Homo sapiens: one gene and its partners. The protein of the gene in region 1 purifies or fractionates together with the protein of each later gene. This does not show direct contact. Each region holds a gene or a part of one and is shown in the gene's direction. Other genes may lie near its edges.

Region 1 (7,210 bases):
CCAGTAATCACCCACTGATTAGTGGCAGAGCGTAGGACTTAGGGGTTATAAGCCCAGATCCAGATAGGGCTAGGTTTGAGCCATGCCTCTAATGACCAGCTGGGTGACCTTGGGAAAGTCACTTGATTGCTCTGATTCTTGTTTTCCTTATCTGTGAAATGGGACTAACAATTGTTACTTTTCTCCCAAGATTGTTGGGAAGATTTAATAAGATAATATATAGTAGGCATCTTGCATAGTGTCTGAGAAATAAGAAATGCTCAGTCAATAGTGGCTCTCATTAGCCAGGCATGGTGGTACTCGCCTGTAGTCCCAGCTACTCAGGAGGCTGAGGCAGGAGGACCGCTTGAGCCCAGGAGTTTGAGACTGTAGTGCACTATGATCACGCCTGTGAATTGCCACTGCACTCCAGCCTAAGCAAATAGCAAGACCCCATCTATTAAAAAAAAAAAGTGGCTATTATTAGCTATATCAGAAATGTCTGACTCACAAGCCTGTGTTCTTTCCACTGAAGAGGAAATTACTTTTCAGTGTTCTTTTTTAAAACGTGGATCCTGAAATGTCACCTAACTCTCCAACTATGTCTTCAGTGTCTGTCATACTCTTTCTTATGCAGTTATTTTGGGGTTAAGTGTCTTTTCTCACCAACAGATGAACTCTCAGAGGAGTGGCTGGGGGTAATTAATAATTAACATTTATCAAGCACTCACCATATGTCAGGCACTGTGTCAGCCATGGCCAGCTTCACAGGCATGCAACCTGTGCAGTCACACAGGGCCCCATGCTTAGAAGGGCCCTGTTCTTGGTTTAATGCTCTACTATTGCCTTCTTAATCATATTTGAACAAGGAGTTCTGCTTTTCCTTTTGCCCTTTAAATTAGATAGCCAGTCCTGGTGCTAACTAACCACTTTTCTAGGTATTATCCCTTTAGTTTTCACTGAAACCCTGAGATAAGTTATATTGCCCTAGTTTTCACAGTTCAGGAAATGGAAGCTCACAGAGGTCAGGTAACTTGTCCAAGCTCCCATAGTTCTTATATTTACATGCTGGTGGAGCCAGCATGTGAATATAAGAAGTCTGACCCTAGAGCCTTATTCTTAATTTTAAAGCTCTATGTCATCCATATATCTCCCTCCCCTTGTACTGCAACATTCAGAAGCACACTAGCACTTAATAAATAGACGAATGAATGCATGGATGCAAGCAGCAACCTGGTGAACGTTAGGCAGCTAGGAGAAATGTAAGCAAAATGGCTAAGGCACAGATGCCACTTGTTCTTGGTTGTTAAAATGCCTTGTTTAGGCCAGGTATGGTGGCTCATGCCTGTAATCCCAGCACTTTGGGAGGCCGAAGCGGGTGGATCACTTGAGGTCAGGAGTTCAAGACCAGCCTGGCCAACATGGCAAAACCCCATCTCTATCAAAAATACAAAAGTTAGCTGGGCACGGTGGCACATGCCGGTAGTCCCAGCTACTTGGGAGGCTGAGGGAGGAGAATCACTTGAACCCGGGAGGTGGAGGTTGCAGTGAGCCGAGATCGCACCACTGCACTCCAGCCTGGGCAATAGCAAGACTCCATCTCAAAAAAAAAAAAATGCCTTATTTGGTTGTGTTTTTTCAAAGTGTAAGCCACAGGTCTAAGCCCAACACTGCCAAGTGTTCAGTCTGTCAGAATTCTACTGTCACTGTTTCCTTATTGCGGGATCTTGCATAGGTTTACCAACCTTTCTGAGCCTCAATTTTCTCATATGTAAAAGAGAATCATAATACCTCCCTAAACCATATCACCCTTTTCATAAGGCCAAAAAGAAAATATAAGTTATTGGTCATGACACATTTGAGTTGGACCTCGGATTAGATAAAAAGATGAAAATACTCCAGCTCTGTCCTCATGGAACTCAGAGACAAGCAGGAAAGAAAATGTGACCCAAATAACTACAGTACAAATAACCCATGTTATGACAAGATTCAGAGTGCTCAAGGAACACTTCCCATTCCCTTAAAAAAAAAAATTAAGGGACTATCCAGTAACTAAGCTGGCAACTCCAAGTGCCCTGGACCCCAGTCACCAATCCATCCTCTCAGTCTGTCAGCTTTCCATCCTAAATCTCTAAAATTCATCCATATCTTCCTATCTTCACTGACACTATCCAACTTAATTAAGTCATTCAACAAATACTTGAGTACCTACTATACTAGATGTCAGAAATCAGTGGTGAACAAGACAGACACCTCATGAAGCTCACATTCTAGTTGGAGGAAAAAACCTTAACAAGGAAGCAAAAGAAATAAAATACTAAGAAACTAAAAGGGTGCTGGACACAGTTACTTTACAGTGGTTAGGAAGGTCTCTCTCTGTTCTTCCAGGACAGAATATAGCCCCATCTTGCCTGGGCTACTGCAACATATTGCCTTCCCTACCTCTTTTCTTACACCTTGCAATCTGCTTCACACAGCAGTCAAAGTGACTCTTTAAACATGAAAGCCTTTGTCACATGTTCCCTGTCAATCTAAAATAATTTAAAAGGTCAGAATCTAGTTTAAAGAGAGTTTATTCAAGCACAAAGGTTGAGGATGGCCTGCCCAGGAAGCACAGAATGGAAAAATATGTCTGTCTTAAAAAAGATGGAAGTCAGTGTTCCAAAGTGTGAAAGGTTGGGTTCAGTGAGGTTTAACAGAATTTCAACATCTTTCTATGCAAGGCTTAATGCACAGTTACAATGATCTGAGTAGTTAAGGTGGTCTTTTTCCTTCAAGAAAGGTACATTTAACATCACATCCTGCAGATGTAACTGTCATGGGGTCAGTTCAGTTCAGGGCACCATCTAGTCTGAGTTAGGTGCAGGACAATAAAGGAGGCTGTCTATTACAAACATCAGTAATTGAGAGGGAAGAAATCTGGTCTCTGCTCTTTCCTAGTCATTACAGAACAAGAACAATGAGGAAGAGAATTAAGCTATAATTCTAAGAAGCAGAACTACAAAACATGCTACATGGACTCAGACCACAGCCACATCTCTCTCAAAGCTTCAAGTATTTGGGAGGTTCCAACAGCTTTTAGGTTTTATTTATTTTCACATTCCATTGCAATCAGAATCAGACTAAATTGCATTCAGCAAAAAAGTTTTTTGAAGCCGGGGGCGGTGGCTCATGCCTGTAATCCCAGCACTTTGGAAGGCTGAGGAAGGCAGATCACCTGAGGTCAGGAGTTCAAGCCCAGCCTAACCAACATGGTGAAACCCTGTCTCTACTAAAAATACAAAAATTAGCCGGGTGTAGTGGGCGCCTGTAATCCCAGCTACTGAGGAGGCTGAGGCAGGAGAATCACTTGAACCTGGGAGGCAGAGGTTGCAGTGAGCCGAGATCGTGCCACTGCACTCCAGCCTGGGTGACAGAGTGAGACTCCATCTCAAAAAAAATAATTTTGAACACCTACATTAGGGCACTGCTCAATGGGAATGAATAGACAATATCTCTGCCTTAAAAGAGCTTATATTTTAGTGAGAGGAAATGAGAAAATACACACTATTTAAAAAAACAATTCAGTCGATAAGAAGGGCATTAGAGAAAAAGACTGGGAGGAGTGATGGGCAATGGTTCAGGCTGCGATGTTTTAAACCGCTCACGTGATCTAGCCCTTCCTAACCACCAGTCCTGTTGCCCTCCCGCCTCAGTATATTTCAGTCCCTTACATGCAATACTCTTCTCTCTTTATTAGGCTTCTGCAGATGTTTCCCTCTGCCTGAACCCTTTCTTCAGCTCAGCTCAAATACCCCCTTCCTCTGGGAAAACTTTCCACAAGGCTAGATTTCTATTCTAGGCTTCCGCGACACCTGCCCCTCACCTTCAAACACCGCTCATATTCTGACTTTACATCCCGCTTGTATCTGTTTATCGCTCATAATATCAAGTAAGCTCCATGCGGGCACAGCTATGATCTGCTTTCTTTGCTGCCGACCCTGCGCCCAGCACGGAGACTGTAGTTACTACTAGGACCTCGCCTACCCGCGGAACACACTGAGAGCCGGAAGTGTTGCCTTAGCTCCGGACGACCGGATGGGGAACGGCGCGGCCCATCGGGCAACCGGAAGCATAGCGTTCCTGTCCGGAAGTCCTGAGAGGGAAACGCCCGCAAAGGCTGGTTTTTAAGCGGGAGCATCTCTTCACTCGCAGCAAGTGCGCGTGCGCTGCCTCTCAGCCCAAATTGGAAACATGGCCGTACGGTCGCTGTGGGCGGGCCGGCTGCGGGTGCAGCGCCTACTGGCCTGGAGTGCCGCGTGGGAGAGCAAGTAAGCATTGCAGGCGGGGAGTCGGGAGCGTGAGGACTCTGAGGGGCTAGCGAGCCAGCCGGGGTGGTTGTGGGCTGGAAGGCGAGAGCTATCTGAGCGTAGGCCAGGGGACCAAGCTTCTCGGCCTCTACGACCGTGCACTCACGGCCCCATTTTACAGACGGGGAAACTGAGGCCATCAGCCGTGCCTCTTTCTTAGGCCGAGGAAGGTAAGGAGATCCGAGGTCATGCATGGCCTGGAAGGTGAGAAGTCTCTTAAGCCCCCAAGGGAGGGATGTACCACTCTCCCGGCCTCTTCTCCCAGCCTGTGGTACCTGTGGGTAAATTTGGGTTCTCTCCCCTCACTCCGTGTGACCTAAGGCCAGTCCTTTCTCCGTTATCCGGGCACTGTTGTACCTGTCAGTAAAAGGAGGCCGCTGAACTTGTTTCTCCAAACGGCCATTGCATCAGCCTTCGGAAGACAAGTTCCATCGGCAGCTTTTATTGGTCGCTTACGAGGCCGACTGCAGAATTATGGGTGGTTCTTTTTATTATTACCCATTTAGTAGTTAAGGAAAGTGAGGTTTAGAAAAGTTGAGTAACTTCCAAACTTAAATATTTGGGAAGTGGTGGAACCCGGGCTGGAAACCAGTCAGGGCGTTGGAATCGGCGCTCTTATTTAATGAGCGATGTTAATTAATTTTCTCAGAGACTGTTGCCCCTACACTGTTTCTTCCTGGGATAGAGAATAAAAATAGTTGAGTACGAGGTAGGGTTGGACCTCTGAATAGTAAAGTAAGCTACGGGAGAATCTGGTAAATGTGCTTAACTACATATGTCACCCTTTTTACCTTAACACACCTGACCCAACATCCTACCCTAGCACCTAAGTGAGAGGTTGCATTCAGGGTTTCGGGACTTGGTTTTGCTTACCGTTCTCAAGTCTTTTTGGCAGCTTGTTGGTGATGTAAGGAAATGACCAGAAGAAAAATGGTTCCTTCTGGTAAGCTGTCTCCCTACTCCAGTTCTGAAGCAGTAGGAATTGAGATTGGCCACAACTCCCCAACCCTATTTCTTGGTCTAAGCTTTGGCCATTTTCCCTTTGAACTGGCCCTGAGAATTTTTTTTTTTTTTTTTTTTTTTTTTTTTTTTTTTTTTTTGAGACGGAGTCTCACTCTGTCGCCCAGGCTGGAGTGCAGTGGCACAATCTCGGCTCACTGCAAGCTCCGCCTCCCGGGTTCACGCCATTCTCCTGCCTCAGCCTCCCGAGTAGCTGGGACTACAGGCGCCCGCCACTACGCCCAGCTAATTTTTTGTATTTTTAGTAGAGACGGGGTTTCACCGTGGTCTCGATCTCCTGACCTCGTGATCCGCACGCCTCGGCCTCCCAAAGTGCTGGGATTACAGGCGTGAGCCACCGCGCCCGGCCCCTGAGAATATTTTGACCTGCTTTTTCAAGTGGATAAATGTGGTTTTTTTAGGGAGAAGATGTTTCACCGTGTGTAATTAGCCCCAGATCTACGGTGACCATATTTTCTGACCCCAAAATGTGGAACTGTCTATAAAATCACACACCGGATTATAATAATTGAATTTAAGATCAGCTTGGAAAGTAGGAGAGATAAAAGTCCTCTTGCTTACACCTTTAAACTAGCTATTTGCTCTGCCCAGGATGCTCTTCCCTTTTCTAAAGCTGACTCCTTTACCCTCTTTAAGCCTTTGCTCAGCTGTCTCCGTGAGGACCACTCTACAGTATATGCCAGTCCATAAAAATTGTTTTAAAGAACTCATGTACTCACAGATTGATTTTCAAGATAATTTTACTTACAGTCAAATTACGAAGATCCAGGAGTTGCAGTGGAAACTTCCTTGAACTGGGCCAGGTCAGGACTGCCACAGCCCAAGATTTGCTGTAAACTAGCCCCTAGTCTAAATTTATTTCTGTGTAAACTGAACTAAATGTCAAAACAGTTTAGCTGTACAAAATTCTAGATTACATAACTAGTTGAATGCAAAGATCTATTTTCACCTGTGTCTATTCACCGGCAGTAACATATAGTATTGTATAAGTATTTCATTGACTTGATCTTATTTATAGGTGGGAATTTCTTTCTCAGCACAGGTCTCCTAAAAGCCTTACAGGTTGTGGTGAGGAAGGCTTAGAATTCTAAGCCTTAAGGTCCCTTTACTGGACTTAATTTCCCTCATCTGTAAGTTAGAAGGTTGAACCAGAACTATATGACTTTTTGAATGCCCACTTCTGACAATGCTCCTCTGGTTCTGGGTACTAGCATTTGGTTTCCTTATGCTGACTTTTGTATACCCAGTTCTGGCTATTTCTGCTGCCTGGTTCTTAGTGTCCTGACCCAGCGGAATACCAACTATGTGATCTTGAGCAGGCCATTATGCCTTAAGCCTCTCAGCATCAGTTTTCTCATCTGTAAAATAGGGATAATGATAGGACTTATCTCACATATTGTTGTGAGAGGAAAAGATGACTCAAGTAAAACAGTGTCTGGTACATGGTAAGGACTTCGTAAGTGTTCATTTGTTACTATAACTGAAAACACTTTCTCCAGAGATTCCATCTGGGAAGATCTCTGGTCTCTAAACTTGGTTGTAATTTTGGCTTATGATGGCATTTCTTCATTATGTGCCACCTCCTTCCTGTTTTAGGGGATGGCCGCTTCCATTCAGCACTGCCACCCAGAGAACTGCTGGTGAGGACTGCCGTTCTGAGGACCCTCCTGATGAGCTTGGGCCCCCTCTTGCTGAACGAGCCTTAAGGGTAAAAGCTGTTAAACTGGAGAAAGAAGTCCAAGATTTAACAGTGAGTCAATTTTATATTTCTTCTTCATATCCTCTCTCTAGTTTAAATATCCACATAAAGTTTTTTATGTCAATTTTCAAAATGAAGTTTTCTTTAATTGGCTCTTTATCTG
Region 2 (7,322 bases), on another chromosome or scaffold:
AGGACCATGACCAAATCAAAGTTCTTCTATTACAAAAATTAATTTTCATAGCTAGAATCAGATATTTTTATAGCAAAATATATTTCTGCTGCAATACTCTGAGCTCTCTTTAGTAATGAACTCAAGTTTATATTTTCTTACGCTTTCCTTTTACCTATGGTTTTAACAATATTTTACCTGTGGTGGTAATTTTTTTAAAAATGTGAACTATCTCAACAGTAATTTTATATTAAATTATTTTTCTGTAACCGTCAGCCCTAATTAATTTTAGCATCTGTTTTCACTCCCTGAATTTTAGTAATCTGTTGTTGAGATAATTATAGCAAACTACCTAATCTAAGGATGACTAATTTTCTAGTAAACCAGAAAAGGTGTACTTCTTAGGTCTTTGCTCAAATGTCACCTTATCTAAGAAGCTTACAGTGATCCAATATCTACAATAGCACCCTACTACCTTGTGCCAAATCACTTCGTTATTTACTCGATTTACTTTATTTTTCTCTTAAATTGTATGTGTTTATTGTTTCTTTCTCCAATAAAAGATAAAGAAAAATGGGCATTTTTATGGAGAATTTGGAGTTGAGTTTTTTCTTGCTCTAAATATAGTTGGACCTCCATATCTGTGGGTTCCACATCTATAGATTTAACCAATAATGAATTGAAGATATTTGAGAAAAAAAGAATGGATATGTCTGTACTGAATATGTACAGACTTTTTTCTTGTTATTTCCTAAACCATACACTATAACAACTATTTATATAGTATTTACATTGTATTAGGAATTATAAGTAATCTAGAGATGATTTAAAGTATACAAGAAAATGTACATAGGTTATATGCAAACACTACATCATTTTATATAAGGGCCTTGAACATCCCTGAATTTTGCTATCTGTGGATAGGGTGGGCAGTGGGTCATGAAACCAATCACTCACAGATACTGAGGGATGACTATAAATTTTCTGTACCTCTGCTTATATATGCTATATAATACTAGTGGCATCTTGAGCAGTATATTTTAGACTCTTTTACAGGTGGTACAATTTGTAAAAAAATGGATTTATGCAACTTTATTTTGACAAATTATTGGCAGAGCAGAGTTAGGACCCAGGGAAAACTTTTTTACTGTGCTTTTCATTGTATATCTTTTTCTTAGTCCCTCTTTCGCTCTCGAGATTATTTTTAAATAAAAGTATAGCAATATGCATATTATTATCAATACATTGTTATTTATCTAAAGGAAACTTAAAATATAACTAAAATATTCTCTAAGTTTTGATTTTTTTTCTTGTCACTATTAATCTTTAGTGTTCCTTCAAAATACTTCATATGAAAGACCCACTTGTTTACAATGTCTTGGTACTTTAGAAAAGCCTAAGTAACATGTGCTACTTGGGAAGGTCAGCACTATTATTGCCCTTCATGTTTCTGATTTGTTAGGATTATACCAAATGTAATATTATTTTAGGAAATCCTGAGTGAATGAATGAATTGAATGAATAAAATTCCTAGGTTATATATTATTCTTTTCAATTTTTTCCTCTTAAATTTGGAGTTAGGATTATGGAAAAAAATGCCATATGCTATGCATCAGGGTCTAATCTCTTGATCTCTGTTTTATTCTCTCTTCATGTAAATTGTCCCTTTCCTTGACTTTTTCCATAGATCAAATCCAGCAGGGATCAAGCTTTGGCTGAACGTTGTCTTGCTGCACTAACCGAATGTGCTGCTAGCGGAGATGGAAATATCCTGGCTCTTGCAGTGGATGCATCTCGGGCAAGGTGAAGATATATAAGTTTGGAGGTTTCCAAAGACTAAAAGTTGACCAGTTTAGCTTTTCAGAGTATACTTAAATAAAAGGTTGATCCTGTAAACCATGTGAGCCCAAAAGAAAATAATGGCATCCATCGTAAATTTAATTCTTATCATTTTAAAATTTCTGTATTTAAAACATTCATGTTTTGAGTGAACTGTATTAATAATTGTGTATTTTACTGTGGCTGAGGAATTTTGAAACTATTGAAATGAATCCATTTCACTGATTCGCAGGTTGAAATGTGTTGGACTCTCAAGTATATCACCAGGTTTATGCCTATTACCTTGGTATTTTACCAGTTAAAATGGCTGTGGGGTGGGGAGGGGAACATTAATCTGAGAATTTATAGGAAAAACTTGTCATCCCATTGCTTTTGAATTAGTTTTAACCATGAAGCAACCGGAAGAGCAACCAACTTCCCCACACCCCCCTCCCAGTCCTTCCCTTGTTATTGGAGCCATGTGTTCCTTTAGGAGTAGAATACTTATTAATTGTTACTAGTCTTTTATCTCCTTTTGACATTTTGGTCTACTGCATTTGATTTTCTACTGTAATATAATTGCTCTTACTAAGTTCACTAGAGACCTCCTCTTTGTCTGATATTGTGAATAATTTTTAGTCCTTATCTTGAATTCTCTACAGTATTTAACATTATTGACCACCTCTTCCTTCTTGAGACGTTTTGCCTTTGTAACCCTTAACATGCTCCTTTGTCTCCTAACTTTTGTCATCCTGCATTTAAAAAAGGCTGAGTGAAAAACAGAATCTAATCTCATGTTATATCTGCTTCAGTGTTCCCATAGACACGATATTTGGCAAGGTAAAGTTTTTTGTACTTACTACCTAATAGGATTTTTGTGAGAAGACATTAAATCATTAAAAATAGTTCCTGGAACAGAATATGGCACTTAATGTGTTAATTTTTATTATTTTTCTATTTGTTGTTATTTAAAAATTATCTCATTATATGTATCATATATAAATAAATTTATTATATTAAGAACCAGAAGGAGTCTGAAATATTACCCTTCTTGCAAGCTAACAAGTTATCCTGTATAGTGGGGTGTTGGTTGATGATATGAGATCCCTGGATCAGAACCTAATGACAGTTTGTTACTACAATATTAATAGCCATAACATCAGCAGGTTTTGGGCTAGTTCCTTTGATGCCCAATTGATGTGAGTGATGTGAAAAGGACTGCTAGATGATACCTCATGTACAGTGCATTGGGTTACATTCAAGGAGAGGAAGCCTGAGCTTAGGGATTCGGAATCTTTTGTAATGGGTAATAAGCATGTCCTCCATTTTTCTAGAGGAAGACATTATTATATTGGACAGAAAGCAAACCTACTCTTTGCTCTGGAGGTAGCCAATATTTCTGTCTTCTAAGGCGATTCACTATACAGACATCTTTGAAAAGATAGTCCAGAATAAAGAGGTGTCAGTGCTTTGCTCCACAGGATGTGCAGAAAAGCAAGTGACCCATGGAAAATTTTCTCCCAATATATGGCAGTATCATTAAATGATTACTTTTGCTTTTAAGTGTTTATTTCTTAATATAATGAAGTTTTAAAAAAATATGTTGCTTTAACTGGTTAAGGTATAGTATAACTTGTATGTACTGTTTTTTTCTACTACTAATTTCATTAAAAAAATTAGATGACTTTTATTAAAGTCCTTTGATGGTTGCCCATTCCTTTTATATTCAAACCTAATCTTCCGATAGTCTGCAAGATGTGCTAGATGTGACTCTTGCCCATCTCTCTGACCTCATCTTATACCACTTTCCTCACTATGCCGTGTTCCTAATGCCCTTCTTTCTATTTTTAGAACATAAAACATATTTTCCTACATCTCAGAGCCTTTGCTTTTAGTGCTTCCTTTTTCAAACACTCTTACTGTTTTATGTTCCCTTGGGATCCCCCTTTTTATAATTTATATCTTAGTTCAAAAGTCATATCTTCACATCTTCAATAACTTTAAAATGGTTCTTCCAGACAGCCCATTCCATCTTTGCGTGGTTTAGTGTCTTTGTAGTACTTATTACCTTATGAAATTGTCTTACTAGTTTATTTATTTAGTTATTTATCATCTGCATCCTCTGACTAGATGTTACAGATGTTAATGTCTATAAGAACAAGTACTTTTTCTTTGGTCTCATTTATTACTGTATCGCTATAGTAGATATAGAGATATAGTAATATCTGGCACATATTAGGCACACAGCTAATGTTGGATGAGTTAGTGAACAAATGGATGGAATATGCTAAAAGATTTACTTCTTATCAAAAAATATTTATGGGAGTGTTGCTGTTTATCCATTTGTGTTAAGTGGTGAATTATTCAGCAACCTTCAGGTACTTGTCTATATATATAATTATTAGGTCATTCAGTCATTTCTTGGTTGACAAATGTTGAAAAGAGAATTGGATGCATAAAGGCATCCAGAATAAATTTTTCTTAAGTAATTTCAGAAGAGATGCTTTCATAATGCATTAAAAAATTCTTATTTTACATTTTTACAGTCATTTACTTATGTAATAAAATGTTTAATTATATTGAATATTATGGTAAACAGATATCTTTATCACAAAATAATGAAGTTAATGGAACCACCATTTCATGTTTCAGATGTACAGTGGGAGAAATCACAGATGCCCTGAAAAAGGTATTTGGTGAACATAAAGCGAATGATCGAATGGTGAGTGGAGCATATCGCCAGGAATTTGGAGAAAGTAAAGAGATAACATCTGCTATCAAGAGGTAATATGTAAGGTTTCTTAGGCCAGAATTTCATCTTTTCTGTTAGCACAATCCCCTTGAATCTACTGGGAGCTTAATTTCCTTACATACAACTGAGAAAATTTTTGAATTTTATAATAATAAATAGTAAATTAAATATTAATTATATAGACTATATAACATATAATAGAGTATATAATTTATTCATTACATATAATATATAATTAGAAATATATCATACATGATACATATTATATATCTATACTATCATTTTAATAGGTACATGATAATATTTAATAATAAATATCAAATATTGAAACTAATATTAGTTTTCATATAATTAATACTATTTTGAACTTTCACCATAGTCCCCTTCAGGAGTTTCTCATGTCAAACAGATGTTTAACTAACAATGATATTGCTTCATATCCTCCAGGTATTTATATTTCAATCTGCTTACTATGGTAGAGTTTCATATTTTTTGAAGTTGTTTACATTTTTCATTGCTTGAATAATTATAAAATCTTAATTTTCATAATTGAAAGTAAACATTTAGTTGGCATCTATGCATACATTACAATCAGTATTTATTGAACTGATAATAACTTACATTTATTTCCACAGCATGACTTGGAAATATATATTAATGTGATCATATTTCTCAAGTGTAAGAACTAGCTTTTTGATGATTGGTCTTTCCAACCTCTGTAACAAGCTTCCAATTAAAAACTGAATTTCCATACTTGTACACTAGATAAATATCAAAACAGCCAAGGTGAAAGTCATCAAAATGGAACTTTTTTCTTTTAACAAAGATAAGTGCTTTTTTGTGTTGGAAGTAAATTTGTCAGTGGAGCAAGCAAGCATTTTGATTTATATAGCATGATAAGAAACCATATTGCTGTTACCTTGGGAGAGTTCACACTTATGAAGGGTAGATGAGATATGGACAATTCAAAGCAGCCAGTCTATCACATATATGTATAAATGACCATGAAGTCACTTTTTAGTTTATATTTCAATCTTTCTGCATGTTGTACTCTGTACCCTGGCTCACGAAGGTGGGAGGTTGTCATTTTTTGTCTTAGTTCACCGTGATGTTCTCAGTGTTATGTGCTTACAGTCTGTGCCATCTTTCAGACTTTCCTCTAAGGGGGAAATGGCTTTAATGGAGCTCTCAATGTAAAATAGATGCATTAACAAAATATGGACGAGAGTAGGGAGATCATCACAAAGAATAGCTAATGGATGCTGGGCTTAATACCTAGGTGATGGGGTGATCTATGCAGCTGTTTACCATGGCACGTGTTTAACTATGTAACAAGCCTGCACATTAACCCCTGAATGTAAAATAAAAATTGGAAAAAAAAAACAACCCAAAATACAAGTAAACAAATTAGGTGCTTTTAAATAAACTTGAAAGATTTGCTGTGAATAAATTAGTTTTTATATCTTCCCTTTGGAAAATTAGTATCTAACTACTGATATATTTTTAAATGTTTTTCAGGGTTCATAAATTCATGGAACGTGAAGGTCGCAGACCTCGTCTTCTTGTAGCAAAAATGGGACAAGATGGCCATGACAGAGGAGCAAAAGTTATTGCTACAGGATTTGCTGATCTTGGTTTTGATGTGGACATAGGCCCTCTTTTCCAGGTACTAAAAACTGTTGGGGGGAATTTCAAAAGTATTTACTAGTCACTTACATTTAGAAAATGTAGTAAAATGATGACAGACATTGAGCAAATTAATACATCTCCTGGTAACTGGTATGTAGCCACTGACTTGGCAAATGCCTTTCTCTCCATTCCTGCCCATAAGGCCCACCAGAAGCAATTTGCCTTCAGCTGGCAAGGCCAGCAATATACCTTTACTGTCCTACTGCAGGGGTTTATTAACTCTCTGGCTTTGTCATAATCTTATTCGGAGAGACCTTGATCACTTTTCACTTCTGCAAGATATCACACTGGTCCATTAATTGATGACATTATACTGATTAAATCCAGTGAGCAAGAAGTAGCAAACATACTGGACTTATTGGTGAGACAGTTGCATGCCAGAGGATGGGAAATAAATCTGACTAAAATTCAGGGACCTTCTCCCTCAGTAAGGGGTCCAGTGGTGTGGGACCTGTTGAGATATTCCTTCTAAGGATAATCTTAGAAGGATAAATTAATGAATTTGTCTCCTACTAAAACCAAGAAAGAGGAACAATGCCTAGTGGGCCTATTTGGATTTTTGGAAGCAACACATTCCTCATTTGGAATGTGTTACTCTGTGTTACTCTGGCCTATTTATCGAGTGACCCAAAAGACTGCCAGTTTTGAGTGGGGTCCAGAATAGGAGAAGGCTCTGCAACAGGTCCAGGCTGCTGTGCAAGCTACTCTGCCACTTGGGCCATATGACCCAGCAGATCCAATGGTGCTTGAGGTGTCAGTGGCAGATAGCAATGATGTTTGGAGCCTTTGGCAGGCCCCCATAGGTGAGTCACAGCAGAGGCCTCTAAGATTTTGGAGGAAGGGCCTGCCATCTTCTGCAGATAACTACTCTCCTTTTGAGAGACAGCTCTTGGCCTGTTACTGGACTTTGGTGGAAACTGAATGTTTGACTATGGGTCATCAAGTCACCATGCGACCAGAACTGCCTATCATGAACTGGGTGCTTTCTGACCCATCTAACTATAAAGTGGGTCTTGCACAGCAGCATTCCATCATCAAATGGAAGTGGTATATATGTGGTCCAGCTTGAGCAGGTCCTGAAGGC
Region 3 (7,518 bases), on another chromosome or scaffold:
GCAAGACTCTGTCTCAAAAATAAATTAATTAATTAAATAAACCACTTCAAAAAGAAAAAAAATGTCTGGTGTGATGGCTCACGCCTGTAATCCTAGCACTTTGGGAGGCCAAGGCGGGTGTATCACTTGAGGTCAGGAGTTCGAGACCAGCGTGGCCAACATAGTGAAACCCCATCTCTATTAAAAATACAAAATTACCATCCTGGCTAACATGGTGAAACCCCGTCTCTACTAAAAATACAAAAAATTAGCTGGGCTTAGTGGCGGGTGCCTATAGTCCCAGCTACTCAGGAGGCTGAGGCAGGAGAATGACGTGAACCCGGGAGGCGGAGCTTGCAGTGAGCCAACATTGCGCCACTGCACTCCAGCCTGGGTGACAGAGCAAGACTCCGTCTCAAAACAAACAAACAAAATTAGCTGGGCATGATGGCATGCGCCTATAGTCCCAGCTACTCGGGAGGCTAAGGCAGGAGAATCACTTGAACCCGGGAGGCAGAGGTTGCAGTGAGCTGAGATCTTGCCACTGCACTCCAGCCTGAGCAACAGAGTGAGACTCCATCTCAAAAACAAAACAAAACAAAACAGAAACACCTTCACAAAAAGAAAAAAAATTTTTTTTGAGACAGGGTCTCACTCTGATACCCACGCTGGAGTGTAGTAGCGTGATCAAGGCTCACCACAGGCTCAAGCGATCCTCCCACCTCAGCCTCCCAAGTAGCTGGGAATACAGGCACACACCACCATACCTAGCTAAGTTTAAAATTTTTTTTGTAGAAGTGGGTTTTCGCTGTTGCCCAGGCTGGTCTCAAACTTCTGAGCTCAAGCAATCCATCTGCCTCAGCCTCTCAAAGTGCTGGGATTACAGGCGTGGGCCACTGCTCCCAACAATTATTATTATTTTAGAGACAGTGTCTTGGTGTCACCTAGGGTGCCATGCAGTGGAGAGATAATAGCTCAATGCAGCCTTGAACTTCTGGGCTAAGTGATCCTCAAACTACTGCATAGCTAGAACTACGGTCACGCACCACCATATATACATCGATTTTTTTTATAGAGACAGAGTCTTGCTTTGTTGCCAGGCTCCTGGGAGATTTAATTCTATCACTGTACACTCGGTTAAATAATTAGTTGGTGTGTCTAGCCAAAAAGTAGTATCCGAAAACCCTCAGTATCTGGAAATACGTACGAGTGGGGAACTTTTTTTTTTAGACAGGCTCGCACTCGCTGTGTCACCTAGGCTGGAGTGCAACCTCTGCCTCCTGGGTTCAAGCAATTCTCCTGCCTCAGCTTCCAGAGTAGCTGGGACTACAAGCACGCACCGCCACACCCAGCTAATTTTTGTATTTTTAGTGGAGAATGTGTTTTTGCCACGTTGGCCAGGCTGGTCTTGAACTCCTGGCCTCAAGTGATCCGCCCCCCCTTGAGCCTCCCAAAGTGCTGGGATTACAGGCGTGAGCCACAGCACCCGGCCAAGAGTGGGGAACATTTAAAATGGTAATCTTGAGAAGGCTGTTTAAGATGTGTAAGTTCCTTAATTTAGCCAGTGTGGTAATCAGCTGAGGGTGCTGAAGAGTGACCTATAATGAGGCTGGGTTTTGAACAGAATCTCACATGTTAATACAAATGAGTTTATTATATTTTGTATTTATTATCAGGAGCATTTTTTTCCTAAAGATAAGGCAGGGTATCAGGCTAAGGAGATGATAGGAAAGAAAAAAATCATTTAAAAACTTAAAAAGACAATATAGTTGTAAAAATTTTTCTAAAAAGAAAAAATAAAAAGGCAGGATCATCAAACCAGCTTTTTTTCCCACGAACTAGGCACGCCACATGTTTTTTACCTTTTCTTAACTTCAAATCCTATCGCCCTTTTTTTCTTCTTTCTTTACAGACTAGAAGTCTGTGGGCTGTTTGGCATGCAGTACTTTTAAAGTATTCATTAGTGGCCAATATTTAGAAGGAAATCTATAGCATTAAAACAGATTTCCAGAGTTTCCTGAAAAAAAAAAAGGTTTTTAAAGGATTTGCTTTCCTAAAATGGCAACAATCAGTGGAGGTGAGTAATGGCTGCCCCCTGGACAGGTGGGCTAGTTGCTGTCCAGTTCACCAGGTTTCCAACCAAGCCAGCTTTACTCATTAATGAACAATTGATGTTCCATTTGTTTGTCATTCCTGCTCAGTAGCTTATGTCTCCTAGCCACTGGGGCCAGACAGTGCCAATCCCTTTAGGAGCTTCAGACTAAGCTGTTATGACTATGCTACCAAGGAATAAGCCTGGTGAAGAAACAGGCTTTTCTGTTAGGCACAGGGCTTTCGGAGCTGAACAATTTCCCAGTCTGATGGAAGAGACTGACAACTACAGTATGGAGTAGTGGCCATGTACCTACATTAAGAGTTATTTACGATGAGTAAATAAAGGGAGCAACAGGGGACCAGAGGAGGTGAAATGAATAATTTTCACCTTGCCGTATTGACTTCAAGGGCCTGGAGAAGCGTCTAACCTAGACTTCTGGAGTAAGCTGAAGCCCAAAGGGTAAAGAGGCATATTAATACAAATGGTTAAGTTTCAGGCAGAGGGAATATCAGGTAAGGTGTGTGGTGGGGAAGAGACAATGAAAGTGGAGATACCTGGAGCAGAGGGTGATAAGCGAAAAGTGAGAGATGAAGATTAAGGTACAAGCGAGGATCAATTTATGTCGTCTGAGCTTTATCTTAGGGACAATGGGAAGCCCCTGTGATACTATAAGGGTAAGTTTACTGGGACTCCGAAGTGATTTGTTCGTTATACAATTAGGAACAGAACCAAAAAATGAACTGCTAATTTTTAAAATTAATTCCTAATCAATGTACTATTACTTCCCCGCTGTCCCATGTTTATCGCTGACGCACCAATTCAAAGGACACGGCACATGTTTCTTTTTTTTTTTGAGATGGAGTTTCGCTCCTGTTGCCCAGGCTAGAGAGCAATGGCGCGATCTCGGCTCACTACAACCTCCGACTCCAGGGTTCAAGCAATTCTCCTGCCTCAGCCTCCGGAGTAGCTGGGATTACAGGCATGCGCCACCACGCCCGGCTAATTCTGTATTTTTAGTAGAGACAGGGTTTCTCTGTGTTGGTCAGGCTGGTTTCAAACCCCCGACCTAAGATGATCCGCCCGCCTCGGCCTCCCAAAGTACTGGTATTACAGGCGTGCGCCACCACGCCCGGCCTGCGGAAATGGCCTCAACGCTTCAACCGGAAGCAGAAATTGACCGCGGCAGGCGCCATCTAACGGCCGCTGGAGCAAAGCTCCTCCTGGAAATTCGCAACACCGGAAAAGGTCCGGCTGCTTCCGGTAAAAACCCACCAGAGCTGACGTTCAGAGGGCGAGTCTCGAAGATCCGGCCAATTTGCCCAGCGCGCTGTGCTCCGCGACGGCGCATGCCCGCTTTTGCGCAGGCGCGGGGACTACGGCGCAGGCGCGGAGACTATTGCGCAGGCAAGCGCGTACGCAGAAGCGTGCGCGCGCCCGTTCAACGTCCGGAGCATCGGTGCAGTTTCGAGGGTAAAGCCTTTGGCGCGGTGATGTGGACTTTTGTTCTCTAACTACAACTCCCAGCATACGTCACCCCTCACGTGGGCGCTAGGTGTGGTTTCGTGGGATAGGGTAAGGCGAAAATGAAGTGACGATGACGTACCAAAGAGGAAAATAGTTGAATATGTTGTGTGAGCGCGTCGTTTGCAGAAGCCCCAGTGGCCTAATGGATAAGGCATTGGCCTCCTAAGCCAGGGATTGTGGGTTCGAGTCCCATCTGGGGTGGCCTGTGACTTTTGTCCTTTTTTCCCCTTTCTAAACAAAGCGAAATATGCCAACTTTACTTTTTTTTTTTTTAAATGGGAAGTGTGTGTGTGTTTTTACTAGCTGGTGGGCTGCAATTTTCGAGAATCTGCACACACCCATGTCCTTTGTCTGAGCCGCAGGTCCCCTGGGATTTGGGGAGACGTCAATACGTTGAATTTTGATATCCCTTTTATAAATCATTTAAAAATGTCTTCTCAGCGTGTTCCATATCAAATCCACACCCACACCCCCCGCCGGGCCCGCTTCTCCTGAGACTCAGCGGTTGGTCGGCTAACGGGCATCTTCAATGACGCAGTGAAGAAAAGCCCCTGTTTCCCCAAACCCTTGTTCTGGGTTAGAGGTCCTGGTACCTTCAGTTAACAGTCGGGTTTCGTTTGATTTTGTTACGGCGCCCCTGGGCCTTCGATTAATAAGGTTCGGTCAACGGACAAGTGAGCGGTTCCACTGCTCGTCAGTCGATAGGGGGAGTCGGTAGTCTGTCCGACCGTACCATTAGGCGCCTGGGCCGGAGGAGGGGTTTTCAGGGTCGTAGGACGCCGTTGGGCACCACGCTCGGAGAAGGACAGGACAATGGCGGCCTTAGGGTCCCCGTCGCACACTTTTCGAGGACTTCTGCGGGAGTTGCGCTACCTGAGCGCGGCCACCGGCCGACCCTATCGCGACACCGCGGCCTATCGGTACCTTGTGAAGGCTTTCCGTGCACATCGGGTACGGGAGCCATGTCCCGGGTGCTCTACGTGCTGGGGAGGGAGGAAGAGCCGGGTCTGGGCTAGGGTGGGGAGCACGGTGTTTAATTCCTGCATTTCTGAGGCCAACCCTCCCACGGAGCCCTGGTTCTGACCAAACCAACCCAGGCCCTAGGCTCCATGCTCTGGCATAAACTCGGGGACCAAAGGACCAGCGGGGGGGGGCGCAGAGTCGCTCTGGGGACGTCAGCCTGTCCTGCAGAGGGGCGGACCCGTCCCGAAGGATTTCATTGGCTGGTCTGTTGCCTCTGCGGAGGGCAGTCAGGAAAGTGGAATGGAGGATTCAATGCTGGGGATAAAACAATGAAGATGGAGTTGAAGGGTGTACTGTTGCTAGACTTAAAGCCACAGCATCTGGCCAACAATTTCCTCACCCGTCCCCTAGAAAAGTTATTCTAAGAAGCATTTCTTTTTGAGGCGGAAAAGAACAACTGGGCTTTAGGGAAGGAAACTTGCTGCCCTTGAGCAATGTGGGGAAAGGGAGAACGATCAACTGTCGAATTTCTGAGCCACGGACGTCAGAATGTAAAATCTTAGAACTCAAATTCACCTAGTTTTTAAAAGGTGGCAACGTTAGGGTCTGTGCTAGGAACCTGGTCTAAACAGGAAGAATCAGATGCACATGTGTCCTGTCCTTAAGACACTTGCTGCCCACCTAAGGAGCCATACAGTAAAGTACTGAGGATAAATAAGTGCTCAAGGTGTAGACAACAGGGGCTGGGGTATAAAGAAGGGGTAGTTAGGGAAGGTTTTCCGGAGGAAATTAATCAGGGACCTGAAGGCTAATTTGGAGTTAGCAAGTAAATTGGGGTTAGGGTCCAGGTTTAAAAGCTACACAATTGAAAGCCCAAGGGGAGAAAAATTGCCAGTTGAGAGTGGTTTAGCCCTAAGGTGTGGTGGGTGAAGTGGAGGTAGATGAAGTGGTAGGCCGAACAGGAACTTAAACTTTATTGTAAGTGTAATGGGAAGCCATTCTAAGATTGTGATCACCTCCCAGGTTCAAGCGATTCTCCTGCCTCAGCCTCCCGAGTAGTACAGGCAGGCGACATGCGACACCACGCCCGGCTAATTTTGTATTTTTAGTGGAGACGGGGTTTCTCCATGTTGGTCAGGCTGGTCTTGAACTCCTGACCTCAGGTGATCCGCCTGCCTCGGCCTCCCAAAGTGTTGTAATTACAGGCGTGAACTATCAAACCTGGCCCCATTCTAAGATTTTTAAGGAGGTGACATGATTATAGTTGTACCTTATGGGGATAACATTATTACCCTTGAGAGAGACTTGGTAATGGTTCTGAAATTCATGGTACATTCTGGAAATACCACTCTGGAATGCACTTGAGCATAGGGGAAATGGTTTCTGTTTCCTTCAGGCTCACAGCTAACTGAATAACCATCCCATTTTCTCTATCCTTTCCCTCCGGAGAAGGGATTCTATTAGGGAGAAACCTACCCTTTCTCCACAGGGAAAATACAGTGTTCTATTTCATTTGATCTCTTTTGGGTTCTTGTGATCTATTTACTGTTTCCTGTCTATTGCTGACCCTTTTGTCCTCATGATTCAGGCTCAACCGAATCAAGAGCAGTATTCTATCCTACATTAACCTAGAATTCCCATGTCAAATTCCACAAATTTGGGCTTATATATTAATAGAAGTGGATGCTATGATTTGTTAATGCTTGACATTGGTGTTGATTTCTCATAAAATTTAAATTACTAAAAAGTTAAATTTGTATTAAAGCAGATTAATTCTGTTTTTAAGCAGCTAATGAATGTTGCTTTCAACATGATCTGCAGATCCTAAAACCCACATTCTAACAGCATGGGCAACATAGTGTAGTGAGACTTCCTCTCCAAAAAATTTGAAAATTATCCAGGCGTGATGGCCCATCCTCTAGTTCCAGCTAATTGGGAAGCTGAGGTGAGAGGATCACTTGAGCCCAAGAAGTCGATCAAGGCTGCAGTGAGCCATGTTCATACCACTGCTCTCCAGCATAGGCCACGGAGCGAGACCCTGTCTCAAAAACCAAGAAGCCACACACATTCTAGTTTTCAGATTCTAACACTAGATATTCAAATAGAGAAAGGGGATTAGGCCAGGAGCGGTGGCTCACACCTGTAATCCCAGCACTCTGGGAGGAGGCGGCAGGTGGATCGCTTGTGCCCAGGAGTTCACGACCAGCCTGGGCAACATGGTGAAACCCTGTTTGTATAAAAAATACAAAAATTAGCCGGATATGGTGGTGTGCGTCTGTAGTCCCAGCTACTTGCGGGGCTGAGGCAGGAGGATCACTTGAGCTGGGGAGATCAGCAGCCATGTTCACGCTATTGCACTCCAGCCTGGGCAACAAAGTGAGACCCTGTCCCCAAAAAAAAAAAAAAAAAAAAGAGTTGGTGGGGGGCGTATTATGTAGGCAGTGGTGCCCAGATTTATCCACATTTGGACATGGCTCCTTTAGTCCCTCAGAGCTATGCACACATCCCCATCTCACCTTTCCTGCCCCTTTCTCACAGCCTTGAATACAGAACTAGTTAAAGAGGGTGCAGTGAATCTCAAAAGTTAAGTATGATGAAGAAAAAAGGTTTGGAATCATTTGGGGACTTTGGAATGGATATGGAATTTCTAGCTTCTTAAAGTCATGAGTCCAGAGTTTTCAAGATGGATAAGCAAATTGTAAGAGCGAGAATAGCCATTCCTCAGTAACTGTGGGGACTGGTTCCAGGACACCCCCCACCCCCACTCAGGAATACCAAAATCCATGGATGCTCAAGTCCCTGACATAAAATGCTGTAGTATTTGCAATATAACCTATGCACATCCTCCTGTATACTTTGTCATCTCTAGATTATAATACCTTATGCGGTGTAAATGCTATGTAAATCGTTGTTATACTACATTGTTTAGGGAATAATGACAAAACATATGTTTGGTA

The links.
Region 2: the proteins of GRPEL2 (region 1) and MMUT purify together in Homo sapiens (affinity purification with mass spectrometry; 2 studies listed by BioGRID and IntAct, with this or other methods). This does not show direct contact.
Region 3: the proteins of GRPEL2 (region 1) and FMC1 purify together in Homo sapiens (affinity purification with mass spectrometry, with the first as the bait; 3 studies listed by BioGRID). This does not show direct contact.

What each region holds. Positions count from the first base shown.
Region 1 is NC_000005.10:149,341,328-149,348,537, forward strand, and holds the start of GRPEL2 (grpE protein homolog 2, mitochondrial precursor), read left to right. Parts: upstream 1-4,171; 5' UTR 4,172-4,212; coding exon 4,213-4,289; intron 4,290-6,788; exon of another isoform or gene 6,789-6,944; coding exon 6,945-7,098; intron 7,099-7,210. UniProt on the Homo sapiens protein: Essential component of the PAM complex, a complex required for the translocation of transit peptide-containing proteins from the inner membrane into the mitochondrial matrix in an ATP-dependent manner.
Region 2 is NC_000006.12:49,439,099-49,446,420, reverse strand, and holds part of MMUT (methylmalonyl-CoA mutase, mitochondrial precursor), read left to right. Parts: intron 1-1,666; coding exon 1,667-1,782; intron 1,783-4,449; coding exon 4,450-4,581; intron 4,582-6,067; coding exon 6,068-6,215; intron 6,216-7,322. UniProt on the Homo sapiens protein: Catalyzes the reversible isomerization of methylmalonyl-CoA (MMCoA) (generated from branched-chain amino acid metabolism and degradation of dietary odd chain fatty acids and cholesterol) to succinyl-CoA (3-carboxypropionyl-CoA), a key intermediate of the tricarboxylic acid cycle.
Region 3 is NC_000007.14:139,336,974-139,344,491, forward strand, and holds the start of FMC1 (protein FMC1 homolog), read left to right. Parts: upstream 1-4,363; 5' UTR 4,364-4,411; coding exon 4,412-4,549; intron 4,550-7,518. Other genes in the region: FMC1-LUC7L2 readthrough protein, read left to right, coding at 4,412-4,549. UniProt on the Homo sapiens protein: Plays a role in the assembly/stability of the mitochondrial membrane ATP synthase (F(1)F(0) ATP synthase or Complex V).